3 separate regions of the Homo sapiens genome follow, and all the other regions are reported to be linked to region 2. Evidence: microRNA targets listed by miRTarBase, many of them from high-throughput screens and not tested one by one. Region 2 holds a microRNA gene; each other region holds the end of a gene's coding sequence.
The links. The annotated mature microRNA hsa-miR-4325 reads UUGCACUUGUCUCAGUGA and lies in region 2 at 1,243-1,260, opposite strand. An mRNA with a match to its seed (bases 2 to 7 or 8) in the 3' UTR can be bound and repressed. Matches are read on the target gene's strand: a 7mer-m8 pairs with bases 2 to 8, a 7mer-A1 pairs with bases 2 to 7 and ends in A, and an 8mer does both.

Region 1: miRTarBase lists DBF4 as a target of hsa-miR-4325. Seed matches in the 3' UTR shown: 8mer at 3,484-3,491 and 7mer-m8 at 2,931-2,937.
Region 3: the mRNA of GTF2H1 is a reported target of hsa-miR-4325. Seed matches in the 3' UTR shown: 7mer-A1 at 1,032-1,038 and 8mer at 1,259-1,266.

The regions. Positions count from the first base shown.
Region 1 is chr7:87,907,697-87,911,940 of GRCh38, reverse strand. It overlaps DBF4 (DBF4-CDC7 kinase regulatory subunit), which reads right to left. Exons shown (of 12, transcript NM_006716.4): 12 at 2,388-4,244. The coding sequence ends at 3,778. Among named protein-coding and RNA genes, the nearest start is that of ADAM22, 24 kb to the left of the region's middle.
Region 2 is chr20:57,320,322-57,324,565 of GRCh38, forward strand. It overlaps MIR4325 (microRNA 4325), which reads right to left and starts at 1,270; the gene lies at 1,181-1,270. All of the region lies in intron 2 of LOC105372687 (a long non-coding RNA gene), which reads right to left.
Region 3 is chr11:18,365,631-18,369,851 of GRCh38, forward strand. It overlaps GTF2H1 (general transcription factor IIH subunit 1), which reads left to right. Exons shown (of 15, transcript NM_005316.4): 15 at 153-1,415. The coding sequence ends at 239. Among named protein-coding and RNA genes, the nearest start is that of MIR3159, 20 kb to the right of the region's middle.

The DNA.
Region 1 (4,244 bases), not on the chromosome of region 2:
AGGCATGTGGCATATGGGAGTGGGCATGAAGTGTGGGCTCCTCATACTGCATGTTAATACTACCCTGATGCTGGCACAATGGGCATATGAGTAAAGCGGTCATGGTGGGCAGTAATGGAAGTTATTTCTGGGCTCCATAGCATAGGTTCCTATTCGCCAAAGCCGAGCTAGTGTTTTTGTCACTGCCAGATGCCCAAACTGCCAGAAACTAGGCATGAAGTGGCTAGTCGATTATACTGGACACAGTAATAGACATGCCAGGTCTTTTTGTTGTTGTTGTCGTTCACATTGCATTTTTAAGACTTAGAGTTTCACTGGCGTGGCATCATATATAACTTCGTATCAGACCAGGGGATGTCCTTTACAGCAAAGGAGGCATGGGGGTAGGCCCATGATCATGCAATCCACAAGCCTTATTATATATTGAATCAACCAGAAGCTTCCTGATAGAGTATTGGAAGGGCCTGTTAATTAGCATCAGCATGGAGGTGATATTCTTGAGAATAGGCTGTCATTTAAGATGCAGTATACAGTTGGAGTTCAAGATGTTTTTATGGTGCTATGCCCCCGACAAAATAAGTCTGGCAACCCATGAGTGGAACAGGAGTAGACCTGCTTGCCGTCACTTATTTGACCCTCTTGAATGTGTTTCCTACCTCAGCGACTCCTGTTGAATTATAAGCTGCGACCACCACCCGGCCGTTTTGAGTTCCTTGTGCCAATAACCCAACAGGCAGAATCACTATGTGGGGTAATTGATCCTGATCCCTCTTCAGTAACTTGTTGCCCCAGCTTCTGGGAGTACTGACAGTAAACAGCTTTCAACTTCTACTGTCAGCTCCTTCAGGGATTGTGTCAGCTGAGGAGCCTCGTTGCCCACAGTCATGCTCCTTCCTAGAGTGACCCATACTCAAATGACTTATTGGTCATCTTCACCTAGCAACTCTTGAAAAGCTGCCTGTGGGGTCAACTGGTGTCCAAAGGCACCCCTTAGAAAACATCTGCATACCAAATTCCATCTCAGTCTGCCTCCTGTGGGAACCCAAAAGTCATACCATGAGGGCCTCGTGGTATGACTTTTTATAGACTTTTGTCTATATATGTATAGACAAATATATATATTATACATATATATTATATAGACATATATATATATGTATATGTATGTGTATATATATTTTTGTAAAAACGAAGTTTAGCTATGCTGCCCAGGCTGACCTTGAACTCCTGATCACAAGTGATCCTCCTATCTCAGCTTCCCAAAGTACTGGGATTACAGGTATGAGCCAGTGCCCAGCTAAGCCCAGGAGTCTGAGGCCACAGTGAGCTGACTGCACCATGGTAACCAGGCCTGGACAAGAGAGACCTAGTATCAAAACAACAACAACAAAAACAATAAAAAAAAAAAAAAAGAAAAAAAAAGAAAAACCACACACACAACAAACAAAAACAAAAAGGCAAAGAACCTTCTGGGTAAACACTACCTTGGCTGTGCCTTGGTAAAAAATAGGAAAAACTACCCCTACCTCTAGGTAGATGCACCTCATTGCCAGGACACACTACTTGCTGCAAATAACCTGCCTTCATCTCACTGGCTGGGTGCCCATCTGCATAGCTGCACAGCACAATCCAAACTGTATGTGGTGGCCCAAGTAAACTGAAATTATTCCAAGTAAACTGAAATTTAAGCACTTGAAAAAAGCTGAATACTCATTATGAAGACCATGTGGTGTTCCAAAAGTCCAATATCCAGTGTCAAATAGTTTAACAACTTTTACTGAAGGGTTCAGACTTTTTCTCCTTAGTAAGTATAACTTAATGTAAAATGATGCCCAGAGTACCACTGTAAATTGAAGACACTTTTTTTTTTTTTTTTTTTGAGACGGAGTCTCGCTCTGTCACCAGGCTGGAGTGCAATGGCACAATCTCGGCTCGCTGCAATTTCTGCCTCCGGGGTTCAAGCGATTCTCCTGCCTCAGCCTCCCAAGTAGCTGGGATTACAGGAGCGCACCACCATGCCCAGCGAATTTTTTGTAGTTTAGTAGAGACAGGGTTTCATCATGTTGGCCAGGATGGTCTCGATCTCCTGACCTCGTGATCCGCCCGCCTTGGCCTCTCAAAGTGCTGGGATTACAGGCGTGAGCCACCGCGCCCAGCCAGACACTGTTACTCTTAAAGTCAAAGGATCATACAGTGACTTTACATACCTTTCAGTTATTTGGAAAATTTGGGGAACACTGATAACTAAAGGGAAATAAACCTGCAAATAATTTTCCAAGTTCCATTTAGATTTTTCAAAGGTTGTCTACGAAACCTTACGTATGTTTACACATACATACATGTATTTGTGATAGAAAATGGAACAATAATTTACAATGGAAACAGGGTTTGCGTGTATGCACTGTAAAGACTCTTTTATTGAGCCTACTTCAGGTACTGGTATGAAAAACAAAGGTGTTAAAAAGCCAGTGTTCATTGATGTTATCCAAATGATCAAAATAATGTATGCAGGAAAAGCATATGAATTAGTCCTGTACTGAGAATCATATATTTCAAAAAAATTAAGATTAGTAACCTAATTTTTAGTGACAATAGATTCATGTACTATGCAATAGAACCAATTGAATGTCACTGGTGGTAGTCTTACTCCTACAAGAACATACTCAAAGGCAAATGCCTTATATCCACAGATTCAAATTGAAATTTCTTATATTTGAATTTTCTCTTCTCCAAATGCTTGTATCAGTAAGTGCCAGATCAAGGCAATCCTTGTATATATCCCAAAACTGTATCTATAATTCAATGCCATCCTTTTCTCCTTCATCTCCTACCAAATTAGGGGGTAGAGTCAACTTTTTTTTTTTTGAGATGGAGTCTCACTCTGTCACCCAGTCTGGAATACAGTGGCACAATCTTGGCTCACTGCAACCTGCACTTCCCAGGTTCAAGCAATTCTCAGCCTCTGGAGGGAGTAGCTGGGACTACAGGCGCATGCCGCCATGCCCAGCTAATTTTTTGTATTTTTAGTAGACAAGGTTTCACCATGTTGGCCAGGATGGTCTTGATCTTCTGACCTCGTGATCAGCCTGCCTCGGCCTCCCAAAGTGCTGGGATCCTGTGGCATGAGCCACAGGAGAGTCAACTTTTGAATATTATTAAAGTTATTTACAAGGTAAGTAATTAAAAATAGCAGATAAATTATATTCCACTTGGTAGCCTGGTTAAGTCCTTCCTTCATGGCTTCCAGTTACCCCTATACATAATCTAATTACTCAGCACCAAAATACTAGCATGGTCCACCAGTGACCCTCAAGTGTCAATATTTCTGATGATTTCCAGAATTCAAGCATAGAAATGTATTTTTCCTTTCTGTATGAAATTTAGGTTTTTCAAGGCAAGGTCATGTTATCCTGATAATCTTTTAAAATTTACAATACAACTAGAATATCCAAATGTATAATGCTAAGTTTGATATTCCCCAAATTGCACTTCACTGGTGGTTTTCAGTGACAAAGCAAATTATTATTCATTGTAATTCTCAGGAAACAATTACGAACATATATATAATGTAAAACAAGACCAGTCACAAGTTTATTCTGTAATTTTTCTTTAACAGGTATTCAATTCTGTAGAAAATTGCAAATATTTATTTTTAATATTTACATTTGGGTCTGTAAACAAAGCTGGTAAAAAAATCCTAAGAATTTCCATACATATTTATAAAAATTTCAAGAATATGATCCTTATCACTTCTGAAAAGTATGCATTTTTTAAATTCTAAAAGCCAGTAAATGTAGAAGTTGAAGGGGACGAGAAAAACGCTGTTAACAGATTATCTGAATTTTCCTCTTCCCAAATATCTAAAACATTGCATATACCACTCTTTTCTGTGTAGCTTGTGAAACCCAAAAATTCTGATTTCTCTTCACTAGTCTGAAACAAGTCTAGTAAAGACTGTACCGGTGAACTACAAATTCTGTTTTCTTCTTGTGTAATAAATTCAGTTCTTTTATCAAATTCAGCATTTGGTTCCAGATTTTCTTTTCTATTTCGTCCTAATATTATTTTCACTTTTCGATGTATTTTACCAGAAGGTAAACTATCCATATTCTTGAAGTCACATTCATTGGGTTCCTCAGGAGGAGTATGGAATGGAGCCTTTGCCTGAACAGTTAGGTGCTCTTGTGAACTGTTTATTGTTATCAGACCAGAATCATGAGTAAATATTGAATGAAGGTCCTTTT
Region 2 (4,244 bases):
TAGCATTTGACCATAACAAGGAATGAAACACAGATCTATGCTGCGTGGCAGTATCTTGAAAACACTACACTCAGTGAGAGAAGTCAATCACAAAAGGCCACATACTGTATGACTCCATTTATGTGAAATGTCCGGAACAGACATATTCATAGACAGAAAGTAGATGAGTGGCTTCCAAGGGCTGGGGGAAGGGAGAATGAGGTGAGACTACTAATAAGTACAGAGTTTCTTTTGGGGGAGACAAAATGTTCCAAAATTAGATTGTGAGGATGATTGCACAACTTTTTCAATACACCAAAACCCATTGAATTGTATACTTTAAAAGAATGAATTTTATGATGCGTGAATTAGATCTCAATAAAGATGATTTTAAAATGTTTTCTGAGGGGCTGGGTGCAGTGGCTCATGCCTGTAATCCCAGCACTTTGGGAGGGTGAGCTGGGTGGATCACCTGAGGCCAGAAGTTCAAGACCAGCCTGGCCAACATGGTGAAACCCTGTCTCTACTAAAAATACAAAAATTAGCCAGGTGTGGTGGTGCACGTCTGGATTCCCAGCTACTCGGGAGGCTCAGGTACGAGTATTGCTTGAACCCCGGAGATGGAGGTTACAGTGAGACGAGATCACGCCACTGCACTCCAGCCTGGGGGACAGAGCAACACTCCATCTCAATAAATAAATAAATAAATGTTTTCTGAGGATCCCTGGTTTTCAGAGTGTTCAGGGAGTTGGTGGGGGTGGGGGACGTGTCATGAAAATATAAGTTTAGTGAATGCAGGCTAAGCAAGTCCAGCAACAGTTTTGATACAGGTCTTCTCAGAGACTTTAATTTGTGGATATAACTAGTGATACTCCCAAAAGGAGTATGTACTAATACCAGATAATGCTTATTGAGTATTCGCAGTGTTCTAGTCATCTATTAGCTTATTTATATGTATATTAACTAATTTACTCCTCACATTAGCCCTCTGAGATGGACCCTATTATTCCACTTTAGAAATGGAAAAACTGGGGCACAGAGAGGTTGAGAATCCTGCCCAAGATCACACAGCTAACAAGAGGCAAAGCCAAGATCTGAACTTAAATAGCCTTGCTCTGGGATTCACGCTAGACTGCTTATCTTGGTACAGTGTACAACATTTCCAAAACAGGTTTGACCATAGCTTACTTGAATAGGAACAATCTCAAAGGATCTGCCTTCTCTCCATCCTTGAGGTCTGCCTCCTGGATCTAGAAGCATCTCTCACTGAGACAAGTGCAACATCTTCCCCATCTCCTTACCTCCACTCTCCCTCCCCACACTGCACTCTCCTTTTTTAACACACACGACATCCTTCCCTTGCTTCAGACCCTCTGATGGCCTCCCACCACTCTTAGACCAGCGTTTCTCAACCTCAGCACTATCAATATCTGGGACTGATGAGTTCTCTGTGGTAGGGGCTGTCCTGTGCTTTGCAGGACATAGGCAGCATCCCTGGCCCCTTCCCACTAGATGCCAGGAGCAACTGCCCCCAAATGGGTGGCAACCAAAAATGTCTCCCAACATTGCCAAATGTCCTTTGAGGGGCAAAATCGCCCCCACTGGAATCACTGCCTTAGAACAGAGTCCTGTTTCCTCACTGTGGCCGATAGACGTCCCCGCTCATCTCTCCATCAACGTTGGCCTGCTCTCTGCCCTTTAAGTTCTCCCAGTGAATCTCTCCGCAGGGCCTTTGCATAGCTCCTCGCTCCCTCTGCCTGGAGCTCGTCCCCTCAGATCTTCTTCATAGCTAAGGCTTTAGCTCCAAGGCCCTCACCTGAGACAGGTTTCTTCTGCCCTCCTCTCTCCCACCTTCATTGCACTTTCCTGCCCAGTCACCCACTTTCCTACCACACAGATTGTTTTTCCCTCTAACACACTGTGATTGAACTTAAATTGTGTATTTTTTTTCCTTCTTTGTTTTTCTTTAGACATGGGGTCTCCTTCTGTCACCCAAGCTGGAATGCAGTGACTTGATCATAGCTCACTGCAGCCTCAACCTCCCGGGCTCCAGTGATCCTCCTGCCTCAGCCTCCCAAGTAGCTAGGACTACTGGCATGAGCCACAATGTCCAGCTAATTTTTTAAAAAAATGTTTTGCAGAGATGGGGTCTCAATGTGTTGCCCAGCCTGGTCTCAAACTCCTGGGCTCAAGTGATCTTCCTGCCTCAGCCTCCCAAAACGATGGGATTACAGGCATGAGCCACTGTTCCTGGACTTTTTTTTTTTTTAATCTGCCTTCCCCAGCAATGTGTGTGCAGGAACTTGGTGATGCCAAGCTTGGTTGAATCTCCAGTACTAAGAAGGGCCCTGGGAACCATGAAGGTGCTTAAACCATTTGTTGGATGAATCATAAGCCTGCCAATGTGTAAATTGGGCAGCCCTTCTGGTGTGTGCCTAGGAGTGGAAGAGACAGAGATGTGGAAAGGAAAACACCTTTTGGGGTTTCATCGCCTTGGGTTTGAACACTGGACATGCCTTCTGGTCCTTTGCAAAAGTGCCTCTTTCTCCCAAAACCAGTTGCCAAGAAGTCTTAAAAAATGGAAAACAAACAATAAAAAAGAAAACGAAGAAGCGAAGGGAGAGAAGGAAAATTACTTCAGTTTTAAAAGTCTCCTTAAATCAGAGCAAGTCTCTGTTTAATGTTGACTGATTTTCAAATAAAGCAGAGATGAGGTTTTGGAGCTAGCTGGAAAACACTTGTGATGGGGTGTCTCTAGGTCAGGGCCTCAGGATTCCAACCAAGGGGGAGGGTGGAGGAGAGCAATTAGCAGCTCAGCGAGGGTGTGAGGAGGAAAGAAATAAAGAGCAGAGAGGATGAGTCAGGCTGGGCTGTGGCACAAAGCCACCCTGCGTGCTAACAAGCAGAAAGCGAACCAGGTCGGGGAACCTCCCCTGCAAATCCCCAGGGCGACTCAGTGCAGCAGAGGGAAGCTGCTTTTTCTAAAGCCCTCCTCAGCTTTCTCCATCTGGGTCTGTAGTCTGTGAAGGGATTTTGCAGGCTGCAGAGATTTTGCTCAGCATGACTTATCCTCCCGGGCTTGGCTGCTACTTCAGTGAATGAGAGGCTGAGATTGAGGCTAGCTCTGAAGTTCTCAACCTGGAAGCCCCAGCCAGAGGAGTTCTGGAAGGTTACAATGGAGGTTCTAAATATTTTAAACCTAGGCCGGGCACGGTGGCTCATGCCTGTAATCCTAGCACTTTGGGAGGCCAAGGTGGGCGGATCACCTGAGGTCAGGAGTTCAAGACCAGCCTGGCCAACATGGCGAAACCCCATCTCTACTAAAAATACAAAAATTAGCTGGGCATGGTGGTGGGTACCTGTAATCTCAGCTACTCAGGAAGCTGAGGCAGGAGAATCACTTGAGCCCGGGAGGCGGAGGTTGCAGTGAGCTGGAGATCACACCACTGCACTCCAGCCTGGGCGACAGAGCAGGACTCTGCCTAAAAATAAAAAATAAATATTTCAAACCACCTACGAAATATTTTTATGAAAAAAAAATCAAACCAGAAACAGTTAAGCCTCCAAATTCAACTCTCAATTTATAAGAAATACCTGAAACAGAAAAACATAGTAAATTATATCACAGGGATGCAATCCCCAAACTCCTAATTGCACAAAACTCTCTGGGACTAATGACTCAGTTTCTTCAACAAGTAAATTGCAAGGAAAGAAAACTGGAGAAGAACCTATAGAATTTAGGAGACTTAAGAGTCATATCAACCAACAGCCATGTGTGGATGGACCTTATTCGCATCTTGATGAAAACAAACTAAACAAACATAACAAATGCCGCATGGTCTCGCTTATATGTGAAATCTAAAAAAGCCAAACTCATAGAAGTGGGAGTAGCATGGTAAGCAACAGAGTGGGGGCTAGGGGACTGGGGAGATAGGGGTCAAAAGATATAAAATTCCAGTTAGACAGGCTGAATAAGGTCAAGAGATCTACTGTACAACATGGTGCCTAGGTAGTTCATGACAAGCTATTGTATTCTTGAAAATCGCTGAGAGTACATTTTAGGACTACCTGTGTGTGTTCTCACCACAAAAAAATGATAAGTATGTGAGCTAAGGTGTATGTTCATTAGCATGATTTAGCTAATCAAGCTAAATATGGATACAGATTTCAAAACAACATGTTGTATAGGATAGATATACACAATTTTTATTTGTCAATTAAAATAGATAACTTTTTTAAATGAGAAGAAAACAATTGCTGAAACA
Region 3 (4,221 bases), not on the chromosome of region 2:
ACCTTCTCAGAGGGCTTGCACATTACCTCATTGACTGGGGAAATACAGAGGAGCTCCGAAACTACACTCTGAAGTGTGTGCCAGATTTGGGTTGGAAGGATTAACTTCCCCTGCTTTTGCCCAGTTGTTAAGTGTCTTGCTGTGTTTTTCAGTTGGTAAGTCACATAGAAGAGATGCTCCAGACAGCCTACAACAAGCTCCACACATGGCAGTCACGGCGTCTGATGAAGAAAACGTGAGGTGGCCATGATGCTTACAGGTTTTGTGAGATTGAGAGAACTATGACCTGCAGCAACTCTGGAAACCTGGCCTGACAGACAAGCAGATGACCTCACAGGAGTGATAAGAAACATCTGCTCCACGCCAACTCCCAGAGCTGATGCTATTGTACTTGCACATTGGAGACTGAAAGGAAAGAAGGGACTAAATGCTGGGGAGGTAAATTAAGACAGAACCAAATGAGCTAAGTTGCAAATATATATATATACACACACACACATATATGTACATGTGTATGTACATATATATTTTAAAAGACTGTTTACTGCAGTTGCTCAGGAACTGCTTTTGATTCACATTAAGCTGCTTTCAGAAATTAAAAAAACACTTTTTAAAGGGTGCATTGATAAAATCTGAGGTTTTTTGGTTGTCGTTTTTTTCTGTGTACATTTTTTTCCTAAGTTTATGGCACAGGGTAGACCTTAAGTATTCCTCCTCCATCCTTCATTCTTCACCCTCCATTGGATCCTCAAGTTTTAATGAATTCCAATTATACCTTACATCAGCAAGTTAAAAAAAGTACTTTAAAATAAAGCAAAGGGAGACTGTTGCTCAACCATCAGGAAACAGTTGTCAGAAGACATCATTGGTTCTGTGTTTCCTACGGAAATAAGAAACGATAAATATTGCACTGAATGTTTGTGGTTTGGAGTCCCTGAATAATAAAGAGGGAATATATTTGCAGAAAGTCGCATAGGGTTTTTTAATGCAGAATTTTGTCAGAAGACAATGGCGCTGCATGTTTTTCTTTGAGTGCAAATGTACATTGCTAAGATTTTTTTAAGATGGCATGTGCTTTGAAAAGAAGATATTGCATTTTTAAGAGTTTAAAAATCTTATGAGTGAGAAATATTAAAAAAATCTTATTTTCACCTCTTTAGAAGAAATAAAAGATGTTTCTCCTATCTCCTTTTCTCTAGTATTTGACTGTTACTGTCCTTGGCGAATCGATAATCATTGCATAGTGACTGAAAAGCCTAAGTGCAAAAAAAAAAAAAAAAGATGTTCTTGTTTCTGAACTTCGTGCCATATTTTGTTCCTGATGGGATCAACTTAATGTTTAAGACTTTAGATGTCTTGTATTAAAAATTACACAAAAAAAGTAAAACTTTTTATACTTACCCTTTTAACTCTAACACATCTCTGGTTTCTCATTATGTGTGAATTTCCTTGGGTGGGCTGCCTGAGAACTGTTCATTTTATTTTAGGCCATGTTACAAACTGGTTATCCTTCATATAATGACTGCTAAGGTCAGAATCTAAGCCAGGCATGGTAGCACATGCCTGTAGTTCCAGCTACTTGGGAGGCTGAGGTAGGAGGATCACTTGAGCCCAGAAGTTCAAAAGTCCAGACTGAGCAACATAGTGAGACTCCATCTCTTTTTTTACAGAAAAAAAAAGAAAAATTTATGAAGACCTTGAACTGGTAAAGGGAAAGAAGCCACATCATTTTCTGCCTTCAGTCTTCCCATTTCTCTTTCAGATCAGTATATGTACTGGTATAATCCCTTAAAATTTACACTTTCACAAAGTACTTTCAAATGTGTTACTGCTACAGTGGGGCAAATAGAAAAATGATTGAAATAAAAAAAAGTGGCTATTGGGCAAGGCAGACATAAGAAATAGAATGTTCTGTTGAGTGCTGTGTTGAAAATTAAGTTGTAAGCTGGGCATGGTGAGTCATACCTGTAATCCAGCACTTTGGGAGGCCAAGGCAAGAGGATCACTTGAGCTCAGGAATTCAAGACCAGCCTGGGCAACATAGCAAAACCTCATCTCTACTAAAAGTAAAAAAAGTTAGCTGGGCGTGGTGGTATGTGCTTGTAGTTCCAGCTGCTCTGGAGGCCGAGGCGGGAGGATTGCATGAGCCCAGGAGATTGAGGCTGCAATGAGCTATGATCACACCACTGCACTACAGCCTGGACAGTAAGACAAAGCCCTGTCTCAAAAAAAAAAAAAAAAAAAAAAAAAATATATATATATATATATATATATATATATAAAGCCTGAAGGAAAGACTTCATTTAAAAGAGCGTTTTAGCTAAGTCTTGAAGGTTGAGTAGGATTTTGTGAGGTAGAGAAGAAAGTCATCTCTTCTAGACTGAGGGAAGAGCATGATGATGAGAAGGTTTGAAAGACTGAAATATGTTAGAAGAACAGGAAAGATGTGTTAGATTGGAGAGTTGGAAGTGACAAGTAAGGCTCAGAAAACCATGTTAATTCAGGTTGTGAATGGCCTTGTATGCTAAAGTAAAATACTCAGACCTTACCTACTAGGCATGGGAGACTTGAGAGAAAGTTTTAAGCAAGTTGCTTTTATGGGGGGGTTTTCTGGTGGTGGGGGGTTAGGCAGGGGTTAAATAACTTGGCAATTAGGACAGATTTAGAAGACTTTCTGAACAAACCACACAGGAAAGCGTCTACATTAAAATGAAGTCCTGGTAAATAGGAAGGGCCTGAGTAACAGCATTTCTACAGTGTATGTGACTAACTCACAGGGAGTGAAGGAATCAAGGGTGATTCACAGAGATAGCTGTGAATTTCATGTCTAGCTTGCACTTGAAATATTTGAGCCTTGGATACCTTTAGCAATGAACTTCAGCAGCTGTATAGGCCTTTTATGGCCCTTCACCTTCTTGCGGAAAATAATAGCACCACTGATGGTTGAGGGCTGCTGTAAACCAGCATTGTGCCAAACACTTTTTCTGCTGTATCTCCCTTCCCACAACTGAAGAAGCAAGTAGATACTACAAGATTTTGTACAGATTAGAAATGGTTTAGAGGTTAAGTAATTTACCCAAATTCACACAGCTAGTAAGTGTCAGAGCTAGGATTTACCCTAAGGCTTCTCTAGTCTGGAGAAGGGATGAGATGTCTGTGAAGTTGCAAGTTGTTATTCCGCAGCCCAGGCTTCCATTGCCTAGTTTTTCCTTTGACTCCTTTGTCATTCCTGCCTGACTCTATTCTGTGCTTTACTTGTGGCAAATCGCATCATGGGATTAGTCTGCCTAGTAGGCCCTGAGGGCTATAAAATGTAATAATGTAACAACAGCATGTCCTGCCTTAGGAGAATGAGTCTTTTCTGGAAAGAAAGTCAGTAGTGGCCTAGCGCAGTGGCTCACACCTGTAATCCCAGCACTTTGGGAGGCCGAGGCGGGTGGATCACCTGAGGTCAGGAATTCGAGACCAGCCTACCCAACATGGCGAAACCCCATCTCTACTAAAAATACAAAAAATTAGTCAGGCGTGGTGGCAGGCACCTGTAATCCCAACTACTCAAGAGGCTGAGGCAGGAGAATCGCTTGAACCTGGGAAGTGGAGGCTGTGTCGAGCCGAGATCAAGCCACTCTGCTCCAGCCTGGGCAACAAGAGCGAAACTCCATCTCAAAAAAAAAGTCAGTAGTGTTAGTCTGCTTTAGACATACTACAAAGTGGGTGAGGTACCTTGTAAAATCCACTTCAGGATGGAAAACAAAAGAATGTTTTAACATCTGTAACTAGAAAGGTAACCCCACTCATCGAGTCTGAAGAGTTTAATCCAGAAAGTGATTTCCTGTTGCATATACCATCTTTCTAGAGCTGACAGTGTCTGGAATGGAAAGCTGTGTGTTTCAAACTTAGGTTTGCTGTCTCCAGTGTCAAGACTTGCATGGGATTCCTTAGGATTACCTCTGCCCTTTCCCAATTTAGCTCCCTCAAGACTCAGCTGTTCTCCCAGTTCTTGAGGCCAGGGGAGTCTTAGTTATTTTCAGCTATTAAAATGTCCAGAACTGGAGTATTGCCTGGAACCTGGTTCAGGAGTGACCAGCCTGAGTTAGTAGTCCATCTCCTTGTTTGGGTGTATATTAAAGTCACAGAAGAGACTGGAAATCTTGTCATCTCGTGGCCACTACTGACTTTCTTTCCATCCTGGGTGGAGTTACATATGTGTGTGTGTGTGTG